3 separate regions of the Homo sapiens genome follow, and regions 2 and 3 are each linked to region 1. Evidence: fine-mapped expression QTL. A gene starts in region 1. Each other region holds a variant in brackets. All regions are shown on one strand. Distances are between the middles of the regions.

Region 1 (10,735 bases):
CTCTATGTAAATCATTGAGCACAGTTTCTGGTATACATAAAGCATACATAAAACTTTACTTTTTTTTGTTTTTTTTTAGACACTAGGTCCCACTATGTTGTCTGGGCTGGTTTTGAACCCCTGGCCTCAAGGGATCTTCCTGCGTTGGCCTCCCAAAGCCCTGGGATTACAGGCACAAGCCACTGCCTCTGACTAAAGATGATTATTATGTTTATGGACTTCCATTTGTTAGCCTTCAGTAAAGAACCAAATGTTGTTTCTAAAAAATACCCACTACTGGCCGGGCGCAGTGGCTCATGCCTGTAATCCCAGCACTTTGGGGGGCAGAGGCAGGTGAATCACCTGAGGTCAGGAGTTCGAGACCAGCCTGGCCAACTTGGTGAAACCCTGTCTCTATTAAACATACACACACAGACACACACACACACACACACACACACACACTAGCCGGGCATGGTGGCTCATGCCTGTAATCCCAGTTACTCGGGAGGCTGAGGCAGGAGAATCGCTTGAACCTGGGAGGCAGAGTTTGCAGTGAGCTGAGATCACGCCACTGCACTCCAGCCTGGGCAACAGAGCTAGACTCTGTCTCAAAAACAAAAAACAAAACAAAAAACAACCAACCAACCAAACAAACAAACAAACAAAAACAACCCAGTGTTGACCTTAAGTTGCACTTGTGCCATCCGTGAGGTTGTGAATTCAGGAGTGCTATGAAAGGCTCCCAGCTAGGAGTATCCCTCTCCGCTTCTTAGAATACCTGGGATCCTACTGCTAAGCACTTTGTTCATTTGTGTTAAGCACCAACCTGCAATTTCTCCTTTACAGGCAAATGCACTTCAGGGGTGGTACTTGTATCAGAGCCCTTCATTTCGTTGGGGAACAAGTAGAGTGGGGGTTGGGTGTGTTTAAAGTGGGAAGATGTAGCCAAGGGGACAGGGAAGAGACACAAGACAAACTTACAAAACTGGGAAAGGGGCTTTGGAATCAGCAGTGGCTCACTAAATTATCCCATTATCTAAGAATAGGAAGATCTATAATATTTTCCAAAATGTTTTTTTTCTTCACTCTAAATGTCTCATGATGTTTGCTTGTTGAAAAAAAATTAATTTCAAACCCTGGGAAAAAAAGGTAGGTTGAAACATTAATCAGAGTTATTTGTGCTGCTTCGCAGGTGTCTAGCTGCCTTAAATTACTTTGTGAAAATGTTAATTATCTAAACAACTTAAAATAGAAAAAAAAATCTCATGATAAGAAGCCATTTATCTATCTCCCAACTACTTCCTTTTTTTTTTTTTTTCTTTTGAGACAGGGACTGGGTCTGTCACCCATGCTAGAAGGCTGGAGTGTAGTCGTGAAATCATGGCTCACTGCAATCTCTGTTTCTTGGGTTCGAGCCATCCTCCCACCTCAGACCCCTGAGTAGATGGGACTACAGGCATGCATCACCACGCCTGGCTAATTTTTGTTTGTTTGTTTGTTTTTTGGTAGAGATGAGGTTTCACCATGTTGCCCAGGCTGGTCTTGAATTCCTTGGCTCAAGCAATCTGCCCATCTCGGCCTCCCAAAGTGCTAGGACTATAGGCATGAGCCACTGTACCCACCTCCATTTAATGTACTTTAATTCTTTCCCCCAAGTCCTCACTTGCTTCCTTTGCTGGCACAGATTCCATGCCCATCATTAGGATCAATCTCTCAAACTCTCCCACTCCGCCATACATATGTGTCAAAACCCCACTTTGGCAAAACCCAATCCATTGTCAACCCTGTTTCTGAGCCTGACAACTGAATGCAGTTAGAGAGAAACATAACGATGGTGGCCCATTTCAGGTTAAATTCTCAACCACAAATCCAGATTGTTTCTCTCTAGTCCATTGATCCTTGAACTCTCCTAGATAGCTATTTTGACTATTCCACACATTCTTTCCTCAAACTCCTAGCCCAGGGATCCTCAGTTCTGGCTGCACTGTTGAGTCACCCAGAAACCTTATAACACACCAGTGCCCAGGTCCCACCTCCAGAGAATCTAATTTACTTGGTGTGCTCTGGTGCAGTGGCTCATGCCTATAATCCCAGCACTCTGGGAGTCTGAGGCGGGTAGATCACCTGAGGTCAGGAGTTTGAGACCAGCCTGGCCAACATGGTAAAACCCTGTCTCTACTAAAAATACAAAAATTAGCCAGGTGTGGTGGTAGGCTTCTGCAATCCCAGCTACTTGGGAGGCTGAGGCAGGAGAATCGCTTGAACCCGGGAGATGGAGTTTGCAGTGAACCGAGATCGTGCCTTTGCACTCCAGCCTGGGTGACAGAGTGAAACGCTGTCTCAAAAATAATAGTAATAATAATAATTTACTTGGTGTGGATCAGGGCCCTGGATATGTGTTTTTGAAACTCCCCAGGTGATCCTAATGTACAGCCAAGAACGGAAGCTAAACTCCTCGCCCTCCCTTCATCAGGCAGAGCTCATGACCTGACTTCCCACTTCACTGAGAACATCAAATCAGTAAGGAAAGAACACCACAGCAGACTTCCACTAAATCTAGGAATGTGCCTGCACGAAGTCTTTACTTCACTGCCTTCTGCAATAAGACAAACCTTCTACTTGTGCATTCCAACTCGCCACCATTCAAGCAATCAAGGATTTTGCTTTGGCAACTGTTCCCTTTCTCTCCAGCATCTCTCCCATATCCTTTCTATTGAAACATTCCCACAATCATTCAAACATCTGATTTTTTTTTAAATCCCTCCCTCAACTCCTTAGTCCTGTTTGGCACCTCCCCTTTCTTCCTCCCTTTTCAGCAAAACTCCTCAAACTTTATATTGACTCAATACCCCCATTTCTTCTCCCATTCTCAGATCCACTCCAATCATAGTTTTGTCTGCTCACTGACAAACCCAGAAGTTAATTCTCAGTCCTCTTCTTATATCTCTTAGCAGCATTTGACAGTTATTTGAAAGTATTCCTCCTTGAAATACTTTCTTAGCCACCAGGACTTTACTTTGTCTCAATTCTCCAGCCTTCTCAGTCTCCTTGAGTGATTCATCTGCCTCATGTTTAGAAATCATGTGCTCTGGGAATCCCCCTCACACCCATTTCCTCCATATTTATGCTCCATCCACGGTGGTTTCATCCAAGATGTATCTACTGCCAGGTGCAGTGGCTCAGGCTTGTAATCCCAGCACTTTGGGAGGCCGAGATGGGCAGATCATTTGAGGTCAGGAGTTTGAGATCAGCCTGGCCAACATGGTGAAACCCCGTCTTACTAAAAATACAAAAATTAGCCCGGCGTGGTGGCAGGTGCCTGTAATCCCAGCTACTTGGGAGGCTGAGGCAGGAAAGTTGCTTGAGCCTGGGAGGCAGAGGTTGCAGTGAGCCCAGATCAAGCCACTGCACTCCAGCCTGGGTGACAGAATGAGACTGTCTCAAAACAACAACAACAACAACAACAAAGCAAACAAGATGTATCTACTATCTATCTGCTGATGGCACTCACAATCTTACCTCCAGCCTAGACCTGGATGAACTCCAGATTCCTGTTTTCAACTACCTGCTTTCCAGACCCACTCAGATATGTTAAACTCTACAGCTGAAAACCAAGCTATTGTTCCTCCCTTTCAATCCTGCTGCTCTTGCAGTAGCCCATGCAAACAACAAGAGCAAAGCCAAAACCATGGAGTCCTTCTCAACTCATCTCTTTCTCTCACTGTCCACATTTAATTCTTTCATAAAAGTTGTGGGTTCTACCTTCAAGACATATTCTGATCTGACCAATTCTCATCACTTCCATCACTCCCAGTCTGGTCCCAAATACCCTCTTTTATGGCCTGGACTATCGCAATAGTATCTGAACTGGTCTTCCTGATTCCACTTTTCCTCTGCTCCAATCTATTTCCCTCTAAGCAGCTAAAGAGAGGCCCTTAAAATGCAAGCCAGATCTTATTTGTCTGCTCTATGCTCTCCAGTGGCTCCCAATTTTACCCAAAATAAACTACAAAGTATTGCAAGATTTAACACCCAACTCTTCGATTTCATCTGCTACCACTTCCTCTCATCTCTGTCTCAACCACATCTGCCTCCTCATTGCTGACTGACCACAGCTAGTGTGCTCCTGCTTTGGGTGCTTTGCACTTGTTTCTCATCCTTGAATGCACATGGCTTGCTTCTTTAATCCATTGAAGGTTCTGCCCAAATGTCACCTTATCAGAGCAACTTCTCCCAACCAATTTATACAAGCTTGTGCACACACACACACACACACTCCACCACAATCACAACCACCATCAGTCTCTGTCCCTCTACTTTTTATCTCTTATCAACAACAGGTATATACATATTTACTGGGTTGTTTATTTTTTGTCTCTTCTCTCCCCACCCCCCGCCACCATTTCAATGTAAGTGCTATAAAAACAGGGTCTTCGTTCTTTTTCTCTGATTTATTTCCAGTGCCTAGAAGAGAGCCTGGCACATAATAGGACTCAATACATATTTGTTGAATTAGTGAGTGAATGAATGAATCAATCAATCAATGAAAAAGTCAGATCATCTCAATCTGAACACAAGGGAATTTTCTCGAGAGTTTTCCAGAGGATTGTCCTATTTCCTTCTTTCTGCCTCTCTGTGTTGGCTCCTAGATAAATTTACCACATAAAAGCACTGTGAGAGAGGTTGGACCCTTAGGTCCCTGCATTAGATATGACCCCAAATGTCACCCTGTGCCACGCATATTCTCCTCCGACCTCCTCCCCAACATGCGGGCCACTGTCCAGCAGCTGCACTCTTTCTCCCCCTACCCTCTCGCAGCCCCAGGAGCTTCTCCTTGGCTGTAGCCCCCTCCTTTTGGGTGATGAAGGCAACATGGGGAGAAGCAGCAGCTTCACTGACACCATCCCTGCCGTCTCCATCCAGAGTGACCAGCAACACGCAGACTTCTCAAGCCTCATCTGGCCTGTGCAGTCTGGAGCTGGCCAGGGCACTCTCTGCCACATTAGCATTCATGTTCATTTCTGTGTCCTGCCACAGCTTGACTATTTGCAAAATCAAGACTTGTAAAACTGCCGAGGAAAAATATATATACTGTATTCGATGGCTTCTAAGATGCCCACTTCCTTTTTTTCATATTTCACATCACTAACATCAGGAATGTCTTATAATTGGTGCTGGGCAAGTGAAAATCCCTGTGCAGTTAACAGAGTCTGAGTCTATGCCAACTTCATTGCTATTCCTAGGACATGCCTGACCTCATATACCCCTTGGTGTGCCAGGCCACAGGCCTGCTGAGAACCACTGGAAGAAGGAAATTGAATCTAGTTATTGTATGAAAACCTTGGATTAGGTAAAACAAAACAAAACAAAACAAAACAAACAAAACATCAGCATCAAGATCTTATTTCTCTGCTCTATGCTCTCCAGTGCCTCCCCATATCACTCCAAATAAAATCTGAAGTCTTGCAAGATTTAACACCCACCCAACTTCCTCTTTGATTTCATCTGCTACCACTTCTCTCTCAGCTCTGTCATCTGCCTCCTCAGTGCTGGCTGACCACAGCTAGCATGCTCCTGCTTGGGGGACACATAGAGTGGGAGGCCAGTAGCTTGGATGAGTTAGGAGCACTTGTGTAAGAAATGCAGCATACCAAATGCTCTGAGTGACTTGGAGGAGCATATTCTGGAGAAAACCTGGGCATTGACAGCTCTGAGTTAGAAAGTAAACAAGGATAGTGAGATTCTGAATGTGAAATTCGGAAAACTTTAATCAATTAATTTATATTTTATCTGTATGCATGCAATAGAGTGATACGTAATAAAAATCTGTCCAAAAATTATGATCAAATAGCTTTTTCAATAAGTTTAAATTATAATTAGAACAGAAAAGGAACCATTGTATCATAGTTTCCTATGGCAGCACTTTTTTCTTTTTTAGTGATACATAAAACAATGGTTCACTGTACCATGAAAGGAGGTTTAGACTTAATGAAATATGGTGCTTAGCCCTAGTTACATAAAAGCATGAACCATTGGTTTAACAAAACCTAAGGAATCTACTACACAAATGAATTGCTTTTTACTACCTTGAGCTGTTTGGGAAAACCATAAAACCAAAAGCTCAATATTAATCTAAAATTATTTAATTATATTTTATAATTAAATTATTTGGAAGATGTTTTCAAATGACTCAAAGTTAAAAGATCTCAGTGTGATATATATTCTATAATTACTCTCAGAAATGATGTTACTAATAAAAGTTAATGATGTAGAATCATAATCGTCATTATCAAATAGGAGGATGCCAGCCAGAGGAGAAAGCTTTTGTTTTGCAATTGTTTTGTCCCCTCACTCCTTCTCTTACCACAGTGAGAAGCAGTCATCTGTTTTCAAAGGTTGGAATGTTTTTACTTTTCTTGTTTGGAAACTGGCTTAAACAAATGTAAGTGCTATAAAATACTTCACTCTAAGTTGAAATATTCATCTAATTTTTATTGGACAAGCTTTGAAGTAACAATTTGACTTCTCAGTGTTTCTTTTGTGTCCATATAATCCTCTCCTCAGTGTTGCATGTGGTGTGAGCTACAAGCATTTGTGAGCCTAGGAAGCACAAGGCCCCAAGGTTTCCTGGGAATTAGCACCATACAAATGCAAATTAGGGACACCGGAAGACTCTGTCCATCCTTGCCACTGCTGTTGTTTTGTTCCTTGGTTCCTTATGGGTAGCAAAGCAATTCATCGTTTTTAAAACACGTACCTTAGCTGTTGACTTTTTCATTGGCTAGCTGGAGAAGAAAAGAAGGAACTCTTTCCTACAGATTTTAACTCTCTGAATCCCATTCAATTATTTTTTCCATTCAACTATTTAAAATAGATAACATGAAATCTTGCAGGAGCCTCACACAATTCCTAATTGCAGAATTTGAACTTGAGCTATGGAGTCTTACTCTTCTTCTTGCATCTTCAACCTATGCTTTACTATCACCCTTTTTGATAAGTCAGATTACCTGTACTCTCTTCAACAACTTTCAGCTGGTTAGCACAGTATATAGGTATGTTGGAAACCAGATATTTTCCGTGGCATAATTCTTCCAAGAGAGTAAAAATGCTTTGCAAGCACTTCCTCATTTTTCAGCCAATCCACATAGCAAGGAAAGTTCCATGAATCTTTTCCTTTTTATATATTGTCTGTTAGTGATGATCATGAACCTATGCCTGTGCAGAGCCCCTGATGTGGAAGGAGGAACCACAGGGGCTGGGGAGGGGAGGGCATGAGTGAAGGTTCCTGCTCGACACTAGAAGTGACCCCACTTGGCGGCAAAATGGTCCTTCATCCTTTATGCATTCGTAGAAATCGCAACATGCCTTTCTGTTTCATGTAACTACAATTTAGTTAATGCTCAGTAGGATTTGTAAGCCCTTCACATCTCTGAGGATTTATTTTATTTCAGAGTGAAAGTGACTTTATGGCCCATTTACCATTAGTGTGACTTATTGCATTATTCGAAGGAGGAGGAGGGGAGCAAGAAGACAAGGCAGTCTCCGTTACGCGTATCGCCATCAACAGGATGACCACCACACATTCCTGCCCAAGGAAGAGGGGCGGATGCAACCTTTCTGTGCTATTGTTTATGAGAGCACTGAAGCCTGGGTGATCATGCAATATTTCAGTACATGAGTGTTTCAAGTGTGTGTGTGAAGGAGATATTAAAATAGAGGTGTGAGAGTAATTAGTATTTGGAAGTAATGGATATTTTGAGTTCAAAAGATGCCACACGTCAACGATGATGAGGAATGACTAGCTACTTAACTCCAGTGCTGGCACCCTTAAATTACAGGGATACTGAAGCGAGACGGAGTTAGCATCTGACCAGCGACCAACAGTGGACCGGCGAGGCGGGCTCCTAATTAGAGCGAGATTCCCAGAAGCTGGACAGCCCCTGTATTTATGGGAGCATGCGGCGCAGCTGGCAGTGACCCCCAGGAAACCTCGGCAGCAGCCGCCGCCGCGGGTGTGGTGACCTCGGGCCCGCCGCCTACCTGGAGCGTTTCGGCGGCGCCTGGTTCAGAACCACCGGGGCGGACAGCTCCCTGGAGCTGCACGCGGACTGCGGAAGGGGACAGTGAGCGGGATCGGCCCGCACTCCGTCCGCGGGCCCGGACCGCTGGAAGCACCCGGGTCCCCCTCCCCTCCTGTTCCCCGGTCCCGCCCTCCCCCTCCCGCGCTGCGCGTGGCGGTCCCGGGCTGCGCGTCCCTGTAGGAGGAGACCGGCACTGCCGCCGGCGGCCCTCCCCCTAACCGCCAGCCCCGGCCGCGCGCCCCGCCCCGCCCCGCGGAGGAGGGTGGGGGCGTTCCCCGCGCCGGGCCCGCCCAGCTCCCCCGCGGCTGTCCGGGCCGGGCTCCCCATTGGCCGGCGGGCGGGAGGTGAGGGGCGGCAGGGCCCGCCTCTGGCGGCTCGCGCCCGGGAAGGTCGGCAGCCGAGCGCCGGAGGCCGTGGAGAGGGCGGGCAGGGAGGCGGCGGGCGCCGAGGAGACGCAGCGGCGGCGGTGGTGGCGGTGGTGGCGGCGGTGGCGGCGGCGGCGCCTGGTCTCGGCCGCAGCCTCTGCGTCCCGCCCGCTCTGGGTCGCCCCTGCCAGCCCCGCGCGCGGCTCGCCTCCCGCCGCGGCCCGCAGCCTGCGGCGCCCGAGCTCCGAGGGCGCTTCCCCGGGCGCTGGGCCCGAGGCGGCCAAGACGGCGGGCCGGCCGGGCACGGGGCGGCGGGCGCTGTGCTGCGGGCTGCGCTGGTGGGGGGCGGCGGGCCGCGGCGCGGGCCCAGGGCCCGGCGTGTGCGGCTGGGAGGCACTGTGGGGGCGGGCGCGCGGGCGGCGGCCGGGGCCATGGCCGAGGGCGGCGGGGGCGCGCGGAGGAGGGCGCCGGCGCTGCTCGAGGCTGCCCGCGCGCGCTACGAGAGCCTGCACATCTCGGACGACGTGTTCGGCGAGTCCGGCCCGGACAGCGGCGGGAACCCCTTCTACAGCACCTCGGCCGCCTCGCGCTCCTCCTCGGCCGCCTCCTCGGACGACGAGCGCGAGCCCCCGGGACCCCCAGGGGCCGCCCCGCCACCGCCCCGCGCCCCGGACGCACAGGAGCCGGAGGAGGACGAGGCCGGCGCGGGCTGGAGCGCAGCGCTGCGGGACCGCCCGCCCCCGCGCTTCGAGGATACCGGCGGTAAGGGGCTGCCCGCGGGTGGATGTCGGGGGCGGCGCTGGAACCGGGCGCGGGGGAGGCGTGGGTGCTGGGGCGGGCGAGTCCAGACTCTCCGTGGGCTGGCTTGTGGGTGTCTCTCCGGAAACAAATGAGGCTGCAGGAGCGGTGATCGGTCTGACTGCTCCTGGGGGCTCCGAACCCGTGGGTGGAGAGGGTAAGGCGGAGGCCGTGGCCAGCACTTTTCCAGTGACAATGTCGTCGGGGACCTTTTCCTTCACTTCCTGGGAGCACCCCAGCCCCTGCATGGGAAGTCTGTCACACCTGTGGGTCGGACTTTTAGGGGTGGATTGAAGTTAGGCTTTCCTAGTTGAGGGGGCTTTTCTGAAAGCCCGGCGTGGCTGGTGGAGGCAGGGGGAGTCGTTTTTTCACTGACAGCCCAAGAGCAAGCCTTACAGCAGGTGACGCGGGCGAGGCAGGTAGGAGTTGGCCCAGTGAGAGTTGAGAGAGAGGCCACCCGCGGCGTCTTGACTTGGCTTAGTTTTCTCCTTAATCTGAGAAACTTTCCCTGTCCGCGCCATTCCAGATCTCTTGTTAAGAATGGGGAGGAGTGAAGGAAGGGACCGATTGGGCAGCGTTAAGGTGCTTGCTTTTCCGCCAGAAGGTACTTTCAGGTGTGTCCTGCTTACCACTGTGGCCACAGACAAGCCCCGAATACCTGGAGAAGGTGGCTAGGGTGCTGGCAGCTGCGGCTGCCCCACTCCTCTTCACTGTCTGTTTTTGTGGGAGTTGGCTGTTGAAATATCACCACTTCCTCTGCAGAAGCTCCGCAGCCTCTGCCTTCTTTGAAAGCTGCAGACCAGCCGCCCTCTCATGCTGGTATTTCTTGTTCCACGGCCTTCTGTAGCAGGCCCGTGCTCCTGCATGCTGTGTTCTTCCGTAGAAGTGCGCGCAACCGGTGTTGATGAGGGCCAGGGAGTGGCCGCGGTGGGCATGATGCGGCTTTTCCTGTGGCCTTCTCTGATTATTGTTCAACCGGTCAGGAACACGGCACATGGGAAGGCAGGCCCAAGGGACCTCCAGCTGGTGCCTGGACTTGGATCTGGGCATCATGCTGCAGCCTGCTGGGAGGCCGGTAGGGTTAGCTGGACTCTGAGTAGGGAGTGGTCTGCAGACCTCTGGCAGGCTGCGGTGTGGATGCGCGGAGCTAAAGCTGGGCTTGCAAAGTCACAGTTAGCTGTGCACTGCTTTGGGGGTGGGTACATTTTAAAGCATGTGCATTTGGGCTGTAGTTAAGAGCTTGGGAATTTTCAAAATCATTGACTCTCTATAGTCCTTTTATACTGTCCTATATTTTCCAGGATGTCATTAAGGTCTCCTGGCCCTAGACAGCTGTTTTCCTATTGGCTCTTTAAGAATTGTACCAGTCCACAGACCTGGTTTGGCAGACTTTATGCCGTGAGCATCTGTGATGTAATTTCGATCCTGGAACATTTGAGATCCAGGTCCACCTGGGACTGCACAGCAAGTCTCTGCGTGTCTCAGGGCGAAATAGAGAACTTGTGCTAG
Region 2 (10,735 bases), 110 kb after region 1:
TATGGGGACGGGTCTATGGGAAACCCCGAGATCTTCGGAGAGCGGCCATGACTCACCGGAGACACTAATGACTCAGAGCGGGGCATCCTGAGTTCCGGGAAAAGAACTAAGGGGATTTGCATTTCTTTATAGGGATGGTCTCACCTGCTCACATCCAAGTGGAACCCTACAGAGGCCAGAGCCTCCTGTGACCCAGAGAAGGTTGTCATTGGAGGTCAGGCAAATCAAAACATAGCTGGAGATGGGAGACCTGCACGGGCCACATGCTGTGGCCCCAAGTGTGACAAGGGGTTACTCCTACTCGGTCTTGGAGGCAGAGGCAGCTGAGATAAGGGGCCGGGGACAGGAATCCTCAGGAGGGGCGTTGGAGAGAGACGGCAGTCCTTGGGCACTGCAGGCCCGCACGCCCTCCCTGGCGCCTGGTGCGCTGAGCCCTGGAGAACGCCCCCTCTGCAGGCTCCCGACAGCAGAACATCTCTCAGGAGGAGGGGCTCCATAAGCAAGTGAAGGAGGCCATAGTCTTCCGGCCAGGAGGAAGCTCCAGTGTGGGGGCCGCCATGGTTTTCTGGCCCTTGGATAGCTTTAGGAAACTCATTGCCAGGGCCCCTTCCCCGGTCCTGCGTCTCTAGGGCAGGCCTTGGCAGCTCAATTTCCCACAAGCTGGCCAGTGTTTCTTCCATGCGAAATGCTGCTGTTTCTGAGGAAAGAAGGAAAGAGTCCGGCTCAGTGTATGTAAGCAGATCTGCGCGACCCTGGTCTCCTCAGCCACGGTCCCTCAGTGAGAGTTGTGGGGGTGGGAGGGGGCTGGCCCCAGATGAAGCTCCTGTGGACCTGCAAAGGACATGCCCGTTTGACTTTGACCTTGTCCATTTAAGTATTGCTGAAATTTCACAATCCTGTGAGCCAATGCCTTAAAAAAAAAAATACAGAAAAATGGCACTGTGCCCATAGTCCCTTGCTGCTGTGAGGGAAGGCCAGTTCAAGGAAACAGTAGGTCAACTCCAGCCACTCTCGAATGGCCGCGGCTGTTAGGAAGAAGGCGTCCGTCTCATCTTCCGTGTTGTCTGCGGTGGGTGGCGCATAGGGCAGGCCTGGGAAGCCAGAATGACCAGCAGTGGCTTGGCAGCGGGGCAAGGAGGGCTCATGGGTCTCCGTGTGCTTCTCAGGCCCTGCTGGTAGGATTTGTTCATCTTGCCATGACCTTTGCGGTGCCCCTGGGATGCATTCCCAGTTGTACTTAGTAGAGGAAAAGGTGTTTGAGGGTGTAGGGCCCCCAAAGTTCGAGGAGGCATGAAAGGACGGAGCTGGGGGATGGGAGGGTTGAAAAGGACAACCTCCTCCTTCTTCTGAGCCTCTAATTCCTTTTGGCTGCGCGTGGAGGCTCGCACATGTAATCCCAGAGTTTTGGGAGGCCCAGGTAGAGGATCACATAAGGCCAGGAGTTTGAGACCAGCCTAGGCAACATGGTGAGACCTAGGCAACATGGTGAGTCTCTGTTTTAAAAAATTGTTTTAATTAGCTGGGCATGGTGGCATGTACCTGTGATCCCAGCTCCTTGGGTGGCTGAGGTGGGAGTATCCCTTGAGCCCAGGAATTTTAGGCTGCAGTGAGCTATGATCATGACACTGCACTTCAGCCTGAGTGACAGAGCAAGACCTCATATCTAAAAAAATAATGATAATAATTCCACCCTTTTGCTTTTTTATTTTTTATTTCATTTTGAGATGGAGTTTCGCTCTTGTCACCCAGGCTGGAATACAATGGCAGCGATCTCAGCAAACCGCAACCTCGGCCTCCCAGTTTCAAGTGATTCTCCTGCCTCAGGCTCCTGAGTAGCTGGAATTACAGGCGCCTGCCACCGTGCCCAGCTAACTTTTGTATTTTTAGTAGAGATGGGGTTTTGCCATGTTGGCCAGGCTAATCTCAAACTACTGACCTCAGGTGATCCCCCCGCCTTGGCCTCCCAAAGTGCTGGGGTTACAGGCGTGAGCCACCGTGCGCAGCCTCCTTTTGCTTTTTTAAATTGACAAACAATAATTACACATTTTCACGGGGCACATAGTGATGTTCTGCTACATATAATGTATGGAGATCAGATCAGGGTAATTAGCATATCCATCATCTCACACACTTATCGGGGGATTTATTAAAGGATGCAAAACCACAGCCTAGATGGGAGGAGTGAGGTCTAGTGCTCTGTGCGGGGTGACTCTGCAGTCACCCTGTGTGGGGTGACGAGTTGCCGACACCCCTTGGCTTTGATGAAGGCAGGTGGAAAGGGCTCCATGGTGCTGTCTGACCTCAGCCACCACCTCTTCTTCCTAGCATCCCTCACCCAGCCTGGCAGAAGGGGGAGGGAGGGAGGAGTGAGCCCTGTCTCCGCTTTCACTCTTTCAAGGCCCAGTCGGATGCAGCACCCTTCCCCATGCTGCTTAGAGCCCCTTCAGGCCTGCCAGGATCCTAGAGGCCTGTAAACCCCATGACTTGGGGTGCTGTGTCTGGGCCAGCGCATACCATGGCACTCACCTGACTGATGCTTTCCTCAATCCCTCTGAAGCACCTGGTGGTTGGTGCTGATTGTTCTTCTTCAACTCTTCCCTCCCCTCCTCCTCCTCTGCTCATTATTAAGTTGGGAGCAGCTAAGCTGGACGAAGATAGGCACATTTATAAAGTGGCATTAGGAGGAGGTGCTGAGGAAGGGGCTTATCTTGTCTCTCGCCTTCAGGAGTCATCATCAAAAGGAAGAGTGGGGAGATCCCATGCCCCTTGGCCGTGGAGGCGTTTGCCGCTCACCTGAGCTACATCTG[C/T]AGATACGATGACAAATACAGCAAGTAAGTGGCTGGGCACCTCCATGACAGAAGGGCTCTCATAGTTGTGCCGTCTCGGAAGAGATGTAATGGCAGATGATCACTAGTTTCCCCAGTGTAAGAACTGCAGGATGAAGACCCTGGGAGGTAAGATCCTGCCCTCAGCCTGGGCTTCTGGGCCTCGCCTGTGCACACATGGCTTTACCTAGAAGTCCTCTGCCCAGGTACTCTGTGTCCTCCACTCTCCCAATGCTGGGTTCACATTCCCTGTGCCCAGAGGCACCCTTTCCTTTGCTTACTGAACTGAACTGTCCCTCAGCAGTGAGCTCAAACTCCAGCCGTTGGCATCGCTTGCCCCAGTCCTCTATTCTGAATTGCTGTCCTCCTTCCCCACACCCCTAACACACTGGGCATCAGCTCGGGCACTTCTACCCCAAGTCACATGTGTTCTAGCACGGGTGCCTTAATTTTCTCAAATATGGATGCCTATTTAGATCACCAGATGTGGTCTCATGTTCAATATACACATAGTATGCATAGTTTACACACAGCATAGACAAGATCCACAATGTGCGGACGTCCAGACACCCACGATGCCACCCCTGACCTCGTGCCATTATAGCCACCATGATGGGAACTCAAAAAATGACGACTATTGAACATTGAAACTATTAAATTACTGGGATTGAGCCTTACCACTTAGAACAGGGTTGGGCTAACTCAAAATCAGATATTGACTGAACCTTCTTTGAGGGTAACCTGTACTTCCTGGCCTTTTTCATGATAAAGAGGGAAAAACAAGGACCTGGTTCTCTCTGGAAAACTCAGCCTGTGTGTGAAAGGTAGTCCCACTCCTTGGGGATTCATTGAACAAGTCTTTGTTGAACGCCCACTATGTGCTCAGCACCTTACTAAATTCCATGAGGTTGTTACAAAGACATTGGCATTCAGTTCACTGAGCACCTACTATGTACTGGCACCTTGCTGTGTTCTATGAGGTTGTTCTAAAGCAGCTGGCATTTGTGGGGTAGATGTCTGTCGTGCCTGCTCTGTGCTGGGCATTTCAGACATAGTGAGATATTGAGGATACCGATCCTCCCATACTTTATACAGGGTGCAGAGGCAAACTCACAAATGGAGAAGACAGTGCAGTGAGTGAGGCCTGAGGCTAGTGCTCCCAAGAAGGCCAGTGTTCTCAGGGTCTGGGTGGGCTTCCCGGAGGGGTGACCTGTGTGCCTTCATCTGCAGGGATGGTGGGGATGGCAAAGGTACATTCGGGAGCAGGGGAATGCCCTGCAGGGGCCTGGAGCTGAGGAAGAGCTTGGCCTTGGGGGAGTGTCAGCTGCACAGCACGTACAGAGCACAGCTTTGCAAGGAGCATTCAGCAAGCAGGGAAGCTGGAGAGGCTGGCAGGCGCCTGTCCACTCCGGGGCTGTGCGCCACCCCAGCACACCTGGCACCTGGCTTTCAGGGTCTACTCCAGCAACCTTGTTGTTTTCATTTCCTTGGTCTTAAATGAAGTTCACTGTGACAAAACCCCCAGCTGGAACTCACCTAACATCCCAAGCCTGACTCCTGCCCCCATAGCCCTCCTGCTTCTGTCGGGGGCGAACCTGCAGCGTCTCACGGGCTGTGGTGAGGGGGGGCCTTTGGGATGCATCTCCGGGTGCCATGAACCATCGGGTCAGCCGTTCTTATTCCCTCTGTCCTCAGGTATTTCATTTCTCATAAACCAAACAAGACCTGGCAGCAGGTGTTCTGGTTCGCCATCAGCATCGCCATCAACAATGCCTACATCCTGTACAAAATGTCAGACGCCTACCACGTGAAGAGGTACAGCCGGGCGCAGTTTGGAGAGAGACTCGTCAGAGAGCTGCTGGGCTTGGAGGATGCCTCTCCGACCCACTGATGCTGGGGGCGCAGGACTCGGTCAAGGGAGGGGCAAGAGGAGGAGGAGAGCCTGCCGTTCCAACTTGCCCATCAGAGACCCGGACACGGCCTGGTGTGTGGCTTGCTGCCTGGGAGGGATGCACAGGGCCTCTGGAGGGACAGGATGGACCTGGTCAGAGGACGGTTGCTGTCCTCATTTGCATTCCAAGAAGAGCATGTCCTCCCTCGAGAAACAGTGCCGCCGGTGTGATGAGCACTTACACCCACGTTCTCAAGGGCAGATTCTCTCATGACATCCGTGGAGCTTGCGAGGCAGCGTGGACTGGTGACTGTGAAGGAAGGCCCCCGTGGTAGAATGAGCTGGAGCACGCTCTAAGAGAGATGCCTGCTTCCTAAAGATCTACAGCAATCTGGGACGTGGTTCAAGTTCAAGACTTGAAGGAAGCAAAGACGCCCTGCATGGTTACAATGGCTCAGGTGTCAGGGGAGGCCGGAGGGTTTTCCAGCATTTGCCTCATGCCAGCACCTTTGAACCGGTCTCTTAGAAGAAGACACACATCCTGGGTGTACAGTGGTGAAATGGGGAGTGGGTGCCCATTCTGAAAAACGAGGCATTCCTGCTCATTCCCTCTGCTTAGCTGGTGGGCAGGGGAGAGAGGGAAATGCCAAAAACTTGGAGTGAAGGATGATGCTATTTTTTATTTTTAAATATATCTTCAGGTTATTTTCTTACTGTTGCTTCAGATCTAATGTAAAAGGCAGATGTCCCCTCCTCTCCACCCCCGACGCTGACCCCGGCCTCAGTCACGGCTCTTTGCATGATCACAGTTCTGTGTTCTGGCCTGTGGCAGGGCCGGGAAGGGCCGCTGGCTTCCGAACAGACGTGGTTGCTCTCCACGAGGCGCATGGGGAGCCCGCGGGCCCTAAGCTTTGTCGCAGATGTCATCATTGGCAGAATTACTTGTCTTGAAAAATAAGTAGCATTGCTGAAACACACAACCGAATTCTCTACGATGGCCATTTGCTCATTGTCTTTCCTCTGTGTGTAGTGAGTGACCCTGGCAGTGTTTGCCTGCTCAGAGTGGCCCCTCAGAACAACAGGGCTGGCCTTGGAAAAACCCCAAAACAGGACTGTGGTGACAACTCTGGTCAGGTGTGATTTGACATGAGGGCCGGAGGCGGTTGCTGACGGCAGGACTGGAGAGGCTGCGTGCCCGGCACTGGCAGCGAGGCTCGTGTGTCCCCCAGGCAGATCTGGGCACTTTCCCAACCCAGGTTTATGCGTCTCCAGGGAAGCCTCGGTGCCAGAGTGGTGGGCAGATCTGACCATCCCCACAGACCAGAAACAAGGAATTTCTGGGATTACCCAGTCCCCCTTCAACCCAGTTGATGTAACCACCTCATTTTTTACAAATACAGAATCTATTCTACTCAGGCTATGGGCCTCGTCCTCACTCAGTTATTGCGAGTGTTGCTGTCCGCATGCTCCGGGCCCCACGTGGCTCCTGTGCTCTAGATCATGGTGACTCCCCCGCCCTGTGGTTGGAATCGATGCCACGGATTGCAGGCCAAATTTCAGATCGTGTTTCCAAACACCCTTGCTGTGCCCTTTAATGGGATTGAAAGCACTTTTACCACATGGAGAAATATATTTTTAATTTGTGATGCTTTTCTACAAGGTCCACTATTTCTGAGTTTAATGTGTTTCCAACACTTAAGGAGACTCTAATGAAAGCTGATGAATTTTCTTTTCTGTCCAAACAAGTAAAATAAAAATAAAAGTCTATTTAGATGTTGATTCTCCGTTAATACGTGAATTCGTTTAAAAGGTCAGGGAACAGGCGGGGTGCGGTGGCTCATGCCTGTAATCCCAGCACTTTTGGAGGCTGAAGCGGGCGGATCGCTTGAGTCCAGGAGTTTGAGACCAGCATTGGCAACATGGCGAAAGCCCATTTCTACAAAAAATACAAGAATTAGGTGTGGTGGCACATGCCTGCAGTCCCAGCTACTTGGGAGGCTGAGGTGGGAGGATCTCTTGAGCCACTGCACTCCAGCCTGGGTGACAGAGCCAGACCCTGTATCAAGAAAAAAAACAAGGTGAAGGAACAAAAATACAGGCTACTCTTTTAAATACTTGATTTTTTTTGTTATATAATCTGGTGTGTATGATATTAACTGTTCTTGGTGTCTCAAACCACTGAGCAGTTTAAAAAAGAAATGTTTTTGAGTTTGGCTAATAGAAATACCTCTTGATGTTGCAGTTGTATGAGTGCAGTTGTATTTGAGGTGCCTGTTTCATTGAAGACACTAGCAGGCCTGCCTTCCGGCCTGGTGGTTTTCCCTCTTTTCTTCTAGTTTGTGTCGTGTGTCATTCCAGATGAGCAGGAAGAGGTGCTGTTCTGACAGGCAGTGGGTGGCTGCATTCCCCAGTCATGAGAGAATAATTGTAACATTGTAACACTCTGTTTCTAAAATGGCAGCCACCTGTTGTCTGATACATGATGGGAAAAGGCAGCTGTTGAGCCGGGTCTAGGGGAGGCTTCAGTGGCCACTTCAGGTCTCTGGAGGAATGCTGTTGACTGAGAAGAGTTTCTCTTCTCCATCCAGAAGGACAGAATAGCATGTAGGACGGACTGACAGAACCTCCAGGGACCTGGACCTTGCCTTAGAGATGTGATTCAAAGTGGCTTTTTGGAGTGACTCTAGTTGAAGTGCATCTGGTTCCAGTATCTCCCTGGGTTCAACAGCCCTCAGGTTGATTCTTGATTGGCTTTGGAGTAGCTGGCCATCCCTGGGGATGAGGAAAGAGCATCGTAAGTGGTCTTATGACAGAGGGAGCCAGCATGGCCCTGGCTGAGTATATGGGGCTGGCAAGCACCACTGCACACATGGCAAGTGAGAGCCCATTCCACTCAGATCCAGCCACTAAGCCAAGCCGATCCCCTGAGGGATGTCTCTGCTGCAGGCTCTGGAAAAAAAAGATGGAGCAATGAGCTTCCCAGCCTTATGCAAAACAAAACACCCACAAAAACTTCCAAGCTTCTCCAAAGAGAATCTGCATTTCCCTGCAACTCACAGGGAATTGAACCTGCACTGAGCTTCACGGAGTTTATGAGACCTTCCCATTACTGCAGTTGTGTTGAGCGTCCCGTGAGGTCCTTCTTAGGCAAATTTAACTTCATTGAGTGAATGTCTGTTTCTGTTTGGTGCCTACTTGATCAGGTTCCATATTCGACTTTCATTGTCTTTCCCCACACTCTGCTCCCTAAAGAGCCTCGATTTTGGCCAGGTGCGGTGGCTCACACCTGTAATCCCAGCACTTTGGGAGGCCGAGGCAGGCGGATCACAAGGCCAGGAGATTGAGACCAGCCTGGCCAATATGGTGAAACCCCATCTCTACTAAAAATACAAAAATTAGCTGGGTGTGGTGGTGGACACCTGTAGTCCCAGCTACTCGGGAGGCTAAGCAGGAGAATATCTTGAATCCGGGAAGCAGAGGCTGCAGTGAGCCAAGATCGCACCACTGCACTCCAGCCTGGGTGACAGAGCGAGACTCCAACCCCCACCCCGCCACAAAAAAAAAAAAAAAAAAAAAGCCTCGAGTTTGAACAACGTCTTCCCGTGGTCCATGGGACATTATACTAGGGACATCTTTCAAAAGTCAGGCAAGTCATATGGAAAAGTCTTGGTGGCTGGGTCATTCTGAGCAAACACATCCAGTACTGACTAAATCAGATGAGGCTTGGTCACCAAAATTGAGTTAACTCTGCTGCGTGCAAGAAGCAAGAAGATTGCAGGTCCCCAGGACAGAGCCTGGAAGGTTCTGAATCCTTCCTGTGTGGCCCGTGTGTCACCATCCTCCCCAGGGACCCAGGCTCAGCCCCCCCAACAGTGAGGGGGGGTCACCAAGCATCAGGCTGAGAGGAAGCAGGGCAAACCCGGGAGGGCCATGGGGCCTTGCAACTACGCAAGCCTCACACATTCTCCTCCAGTCTGCATTCATGGCAAAAAAAAAACATTTCCCCACTTGCCTGGGATTGGGGCGAGAACAAGTCAACGACACTGATGGGGGAGAAAGGTGACCTTGGGTGTGGTACCTCCCAGATCTGTCTCCTGCATCCTCGCAGGTGCTGTGTTTGAAAGGTATGACAGCGGTGGCTAACAGGCAGGCACACTTCCAGGCGGCTTGGGGTGGCCCTTCTGCCCCAGAGCCTTACTCCTCACAGGGATCCCTGTGGGTTAGGCATGGACTGTCACCACGCCCAGATGGAGTGGTGCAATGGTTCGCCCAGGTAAGCAGACCCGGGTTTGCCTGACGCAGGAGGCCGCGTCCTAACTGCTGTGGGCACTGGCTGTCCTGATTCATCACGAGGACGGGGGATTTTATCCCTGACTTACCTGACAACTTTGTGGGGGATTTTCTCCTTTCCATATCCAATCCTCTCTGCTGATCCGAATACTGAAAACAATCATTATGAGATCCGGGACATCACCCTCCCCCTGGGTCCTTTTCTTGTCCTAGATGGAGATGGGTGTTTTGGAGCTTAACAACTACTGAAGCTGAAGTTAGCCTGGTAGGGAGCCACTATTCTGGGGGGCATTTGGACAGGGCAAGCCCTTGGCCACACCAGACCCTGAGCCAGAAAGAACCATAGCGATTTCCTCACCCAGATGGCCCCAGCTCACAGTATGGGGAGAGTGGGATGGGGTGGGGGAGTGGAGCCAGCTGTGGGGTCTCATCAGAGTGCCCTGGGATCTAGGCCAGAGGCGCCGTCTTCACCCACATGCCAGCTTTGTGGTTCTGGTCCCTCTTCCTTAAGCGAGGGCTTGCCAAGCTTTGGCTGTGGAAAGCCTTAGCCTTGTGTAGTGGGAGTTCCAAACGAAAGAAGTCCCCAGAAGTTCACAAGGTAGTGGCCAGGGAAAGTGTCCCCAGTGCCCCCTCCCCACCGGTGGCCTCTGCAGCTTGCTTTGGAAAACAGTTCTGTCTGTGAAGAAATCTCTCCTGTTACGGCCCTGTGTCAGTCAATGCGGGCTTGGCTGTCTGCCCAAATACCTTCCGTTCTTATCAGGAACATGACTGAGGCTTCTCACTTTTGACTCCATCACTTAATCCCTTTTTCTCCGTGGCTTCTGTGTGTCTCATCTTCGAGAATATTTCTCAGCCTTCTTTGCAGGTATGTTATTCTCTCCCAATAAGAAATAAAGAGTATCAGGTACCAAAGTGGCACTTAGAGCTGTTGCCATAAAATAGCACCAGAGAGTAAGCATGCCCTCTGGCCACGCAGCTCGCTGCCATTTAGCCATCTCTGTGTCCCTCCCTCCCTGGGGTGCCCAGTGCGCACCCCAGTTCTCCAGCAGCCCAGGCACATTCTCCTAGCTCTGACCCCTGTCTGGTGGGGGCCGGGCAGCCTCTCTTGAGTGTAGGGCGGTGGTGCTGGCGCTGGTGGCAGCTCTGTGTGAACTGTGTTCCGGGGAGGGTGGGGCACCTTCACCCTTCCGTGTATACCCATGTATACACGGTCGTAATGAGGAGACTCCTGCGGGAGACTTGATTGTGCGCTCCATGTCACTAGCTACTCTACAAGCAGATACTATTCTTCAGGTTTTTTCCTTAGTTGCCTGGAAGCTTGACCTTGTGTGCATGTATTTGGAGATGAAAACAGAAAGGGCGGGGAGGACATCGGCTTGTGTGAAAGACCTAGGAAGACGATGGAGGAGTGTGTGCGGCTTCCCTCACGTGTCAAGCCTCCTGGCTCCCTCAGGTGGAAGGGGCACTTTATGGCCAAGGAAATTCAGTGAGGAGTGAAGGGTGAGGCTGAGCCCGCCAGATAAATCAGCCTCGGCCCTCCCCTCCCCAAGGGTCAGCCCCCGGCAGCGCACCTCTGTTCTTGGTGCGTCTCGCTAGTCTTTGATTCATTCTTCTGCCGTCTTCACCCAAGCCTCGCTGGACTAAAGAGTGACAGTTAATGCACATGGAGCATTTCTGTTCCAGCAGGTCACGTCTCCCTGTATGGTTCCTTTGCTGAGTCCTCAGCATT
Region 3 (5,000 bases), 87 kb after region 1:
TCAGTGGAGGCAGGGCTTCAGGTTCACGCTGGGCATTGACATACTCCGGAAGTAGATGGGCATTAGAAGCCAGAATTCAAGATGGTAACCCCCAAGCAAAAGAACCCGTGCTTCCTACCCCCTGCACACATCATGGAATCTGTCCAGGCAGAGCCCTCATGACATCTGTGAGGGACACTCTGAATGAGGTCCGTGTGCCCTGTGCTGCTAAGCTAGCTGACCTGGAAGCCCCTTCCCTCCCTCAGTCTCATCTGTGGATTCTGGCAGCTGCTTCTGGCGTTCAGGAAAGAATGACGAACACTTACAGAGTGTGTGTTGTGGGCCAGGCTCTGTGCTTAAGCACTTCACATGCAGGATTCATTTTTTCTCCACAAGGGCCTTAAGAGGCAAGTAATGTCACCGCCACTGTTTCTTGGTAAGGAAACTGAGGCACAGAGAGATTTGCTGCCTTGCCTAAAATTAGATCTACAAAGCAGTAGACCTGGGATTAAACCCAGCCATTCTGACTCTAGATCTCACCTTCTTTTTTTTTTTTGGAGACGGAGTCTCCCTCTGTTGCCCAGGCTGGAGTGTAGTGGCGTGATCTCGGCTCACTGCAAGCTCCACCTCCTGGGTTCACACCATTCTCCTGCCTCAGCCTCCCGAGTAGCTGGGACTACAGGTGCCCGCCACCACGCCCGGCTAAATTTTTGTATTTTTAGTAGAGAAGGGGTTTCACTGTGTTAGCCAGGATGGTCTGCATCTCCTGACCTCGTGGTCTGCCCGCCTCGGCCTCTCAAAGTGCTGGGATTACAGGTGTGAGCCACTGTGCCCAGCCTGGATCCCACCTTCTTAACCACTAGGCTATGTTGACTCCTCCAAGGAGAGAACTTTTCCCGATTTAGACAAAAAGCCAAGTATCTTTTATCCAGCTTGATTGTTGGTAGGACAGTGGTCTAGCATCCACGTCACTAATTTCCCTTATTTTGAGACATACTATTTATGTTGAAAGAATTTAAAGAAGGTGCACTAAAGTGTTTTTTTCCTTATTTGACTCAGTCTTTTTACATACTAAGTGAAATATTTTGCTCTTGACCTATAACTAATTGAATTGGCTCTAAAAGTGAGGACCACTATGGAATTAATTGGCTGGAGTGAATTTTGCTTGTGGATTCAGAAGCTGGGCAGGGCAGGACATGTGTCCAGCTGTTTAATCGTGCAGTGAGGAGGATGCTGGCATGAGATCCTGTCCAGGTTGGACACGGTAAGTTGAGGATGGGATTGGCTGAGGCAGAAGACATAACCGTGGACCTCTTTGTGTCCTTGAGCAAGTAGCTGAGAACTACCTTCTTTCTCCACTTTTGAATGAAGTTAATCCACCCACACCTCTTTACCGTATAGGACTTCAAAGATGACAATAAAGTATTTATTAAGTGCCCAGGTAAGTGCACCAGCTACTGTGTGGATCAGATTCAACCCTCTCCCTAAAGAACTTCGACTCTTCAACTGCACAGACATGAGTGTGTACAGAGAGCCCACATGCTGATACATGTCCCTCCTCCAACCTGTCATTTTGAAAGAACCACCTCAGGCTTTGAGCTTTGGGATGAGATGAAGGCAAGGCTCCCACAGGGGTCAGCGGTGCTGAAGGTGCAGCCAGAGAGGAGAAGGACCAAGAACAGACTCAGCACATGAGCTCTTCCTGGGCATGGTCATGGTGAGAGGCCTGAGAGAGAAACTGGGCAATGAGAGATGAAAGTCATCAGTATGGTGATGGCTTAGAGACTTTGCTAGAAGCCCCAGCTAATACACAAAGATGACACAAGCAGCATTGTCCAGCAGGACTCTCTGCAATGATGGAAATGTTTCATATCTGCTCTCCATGATGGCAGTTCCTAGCCTCATGTGACTGTTGACTATTTGCATTGTGACCAGTGTGGCTGCGGGCCTGAATTTTTCATTTTAGTTAATTTAAATGTAAATGAAAACAGCCATATGTGGCTGAAGGCAACCACATTGGGAGCACAGTTACAGAGCTTTGCTATATTAAAAAATCACTTCTATGTGCACAATTTTCACTTAAAGACAAGGGCCTTGCAAGGTGCATATGGCAACGTTATCCTTACAGATAAGGAAAGCAAGGCTCAGAGCAATTAAGTAACTTGCCCCCAAACCCACAAGCCAGTGAATGACAGAGCCCGTGCCCATGTATCCTGGCACTCACCCTCCCTGCCTCAGTTCCTCTCATGACAAGTGACTGTCATTTACAATTCACAACTC[TCTCA/A]AGTGGCTGTCCCATGCAGATGTCCCAGGTGACAGCCGCACACACCCCGTGATCTCATTCTGCGTCTTCAGTGAGTGCAGATCGTGCACTGCTGTGCTGTTTCCACAGCTGAATTACTTTCACCTTCATAGCTCCTTGCACACTAGAGATAAGACTCAAGCAAAGGATCACCAGTCCCTACGATGTGATACCCTTCCCCCAAATATGCTCTTCACTGAGAAAATTGATTCTCTTCTGTGCTGAAAAAGAAGTAGGGTCATTCATTGGTCAAGACCAGTATAGCTGAACTGGGCTTTCTCCAGTTCTTTGTGTTAGAGAGGCAGGAGGGTGCCCGGATCCCAGCAACAGCTTAGTGGAACTATCAGCTGGTGAGTCAGCAGCTACTGCCACTAGCCTTACTGTTCTTTTGAGAAGTTGAGGGAAAAGATGAACTAGATCCTGTCTCTGGAGGTCGTGGGGGCATTTCAGGAGAGCTAAGATAAATCCCATGTGCTGTATGTGTCCCCCAGGGTATTAACTGCTATAATCCATAATTCCTAAGATCCTTTTTGTTGTAATGTCAGTATAAAATATGCAACATTAGGAATAATACCCTGGGGCAAAGTATAATGCCATATAGTAATAAACTTGCATGCCTACTTTCTTAAATATATATATATTTAAAAATCATAGGAGCAAAAAAACTTTTTAGGAAAAGTGAAAAGCTTGGCAACCACCAAATGGTACATTTTCCTGCTCTAGAGATACTTGTCAAGCAGTCTTGTAGCTCAGAAGTGTCTATAACTGGCTGCATTTTGCCCAGTGATAGGAAGTCACCTATGTCTACACACGTTGGTGGAACCATATTAGTATGATAGTGCTTTCTCTAGATATGTCTAGGGAGATATCTGACTTTTTGAAAAGCAGACCAGGAAGTAGTCACACATCTAAGTGAATGGTATTTCCTTCCGTGTCGTGTCTGGGGAGCTCTTGTAGAAAGTACCCAACCCAGTGTCTGAATACATGTGTGGGTTCCCAGTGATTCTGCTGTTTCTCAGATTACTGGCAGGATTCCTTAGGATTGTCTTTTAAACCTGGACGAGATCATTAGCATAGCTTGTATAGCTTAAGCATTTGTAGCAACAGAGCATGGATAGGATAAGACTTCACTGGAGGTTGCTCATCCAGCTAAGGGAAACAAGTTACTACCTTTGACCACTGACGTTATTCTGTCAAAGCAAACCAGGACCAGTCAGGTACCGGACCTGCCTGGCCATCAGACCAAGCAGTACCTCTTAGACTGGGCCTTTTCCTGGCCAGATTTTGACTGCCTTGCCAACAGTTTTTCCTAAATCATGCCCTCAACTGAGACTTTCAAGGTTACCTCTTTTTTGTATTTATTTAAATGAAGGTCCTATTTTATATTCACTTTTAGAAACTCATTATTTTATAGCAATGAGTGCCACACATTTGGGACTCTCTTTGGACTCTCATTGGTGCCACTTCTTGGCTGCATCCTTCTTCCAGATTTCCTAATAAGAAATCTTTGACCTTCGGCTCAGTGCCTGTCTCCTCTGGCTCAGTGCCTTTAGCTCAGTGCCTGTCCCCTTCTCCTGTGACATCCCAGTTGAGCGTCCACTTCTTCAGAAGAGGCTGGCTGGAGTCTGGAAAAATGGCAGTTTTCAGAGGTGCATGTGTGGACACGAGGCTGAGTAATTTCAAGGCAGTCCTGCGGCAGGACTGCCTTCCGTATTCTACCCAGGGATTGTAAAATCTCAGCTGCACATCACTGGCTTTTGGGAAAATGTGTTAATTCCAAGACAGCAAGAGGCTACCCTGATTCTCAGAGTCATCGTCATCTCCAGGCATGGAGATGATGAATAACCGTTCACTCAGACCCAAAGATACTGCAAATTCCAAATAGTCTTATGCTTGGGTAATCCTGATAAGGAAGTTATTTTATAATTATTTTTAGTGGGTTGTTTTCTGATTAAGTTGTATTACATATTTAGCATCAAAAACATTAAAAGCCCAGCATATCTGTCATTCTGATAAATACTTTTTATACAGAAATAGCCGCTTGAGTGTATAGTCAACATATATTTATAAACACACACATATACACACACTTGCACTGTTTTATAATCTGGCTACTTACAAGGATATTGTGAACATTTTCTATGTTATTAAACACTTTTTCTACATGATGATTTTTTAAAGTATATCACATTCCATTATACCTACATATATAATTTTAACCAGTCTGCTCTTCATGTAAGGTAGTTAGGTCATTGTTAATTTTTTTACCATTATAAAAAACCCTGAAATGGACATGGTATTTTATATATAAATCCTTTTAACACATTTCTGATTGTTACCTTGGATTGAATTCCTAAAAGTGAAACTCATGAGTAAAATAGCATGAATATTTTTAAGGTTTTTACAAAATTTATTTTTTAATTGACAAATAAAAATAGTATATTTTTATTGTGTACAACATATTTTGAAATATGTAGACACTGAAATGGCCAAATCGAGCCAACTGACATATGCATTACATCACATAGTTATCATTTTTTGTGGTGAGAACACTTAAAATCGACCGTCTTGGCAATTTCCAAGAATATATTGTTATTAACTTTAGTCACCATGTGGTACCATAGATCTCTTGAACTTATTCCTCCTATCTAACAGATTTTGAATTCTTTGACCAATACCTCCCCACTCCCACTTCCATCCCCCAGCCCCGTAACCACCA

Direction of the effects. Positions count from the first base shown, and alleles are read on the strand shown. Sizes are in standard deviations (SD) of each study's normalised expression. Not every link is listed here.
For the expression in prefrontal cortex of the gene that starts at base 8,456 in region 1, allele T in region 2 goes with a higher level than allele C (small effect, 0.30 SD a copy in CommonMind).

The links. PIP is the estimated chance that this variant, and not a neighbour inherited with it, causes the effect. A credible set is the group of variants that fine-mapping cannot tell apart.
Region 2: its variant is the best candidate, but not a certain one, in a credible set for the expression of PGBD5 in prefrontal cortex (CommonMind, PIP 0.70).
Region 3: its variant is the best candidate, but not a certain one, in a credible set for the expression of PGBD5 in lung (TOPMed, PIP 0.79).

Annotation. Positions count from the first base shown.
Region 1 is chr1:230,424,053-230,434,787 of GRCh38, reverse strand. It overlaps PGBD5 (piggyBac transposable element derived 5), which reads left to right and starts at 8,456. Exons shown (of 7, transcript NM_001258311.2): 1 at 8,456-9,190. The coding sequence starts at 8,860. RefSeq lists enhancers at 7,287-7,833, 7,834-8,381 and a silencer at 8,190-8,509.
Region 2 is chr1:230,317,406-230,328,140 of GRCh38, reverse strand. PGBD5 (piggyBac transposable element derived 5) reads left to right here. Exons shown (of 7, transcript NM_001258311.2): 6 at 2,726-2,831; 7 at 4,521-10,735. The coding sequence ends at 4,716. Among named protein-coding and RNA genes, the nearest start is that of PGBD5, 100 kb to the left of the region's middle. RefSeq lists enhancers at 212-331, 10,459-10,735. The variant C/T (reference allele first, on the strand shown) is at 2,808.
Region 3 is chr1:230,339,821-230,344,820 of GRCh38, reverse strand. All of the region lies in intron 3 of PGBD5 (piggyBac transposable element derived 5), which reads left to right. Among named protein-coding and RNA genes, the nearest start is that of PGBD5, 84 kb to the left of the region's middle. The variant TCTCA/A (reference allele first, on the strand shown) is at 2,260.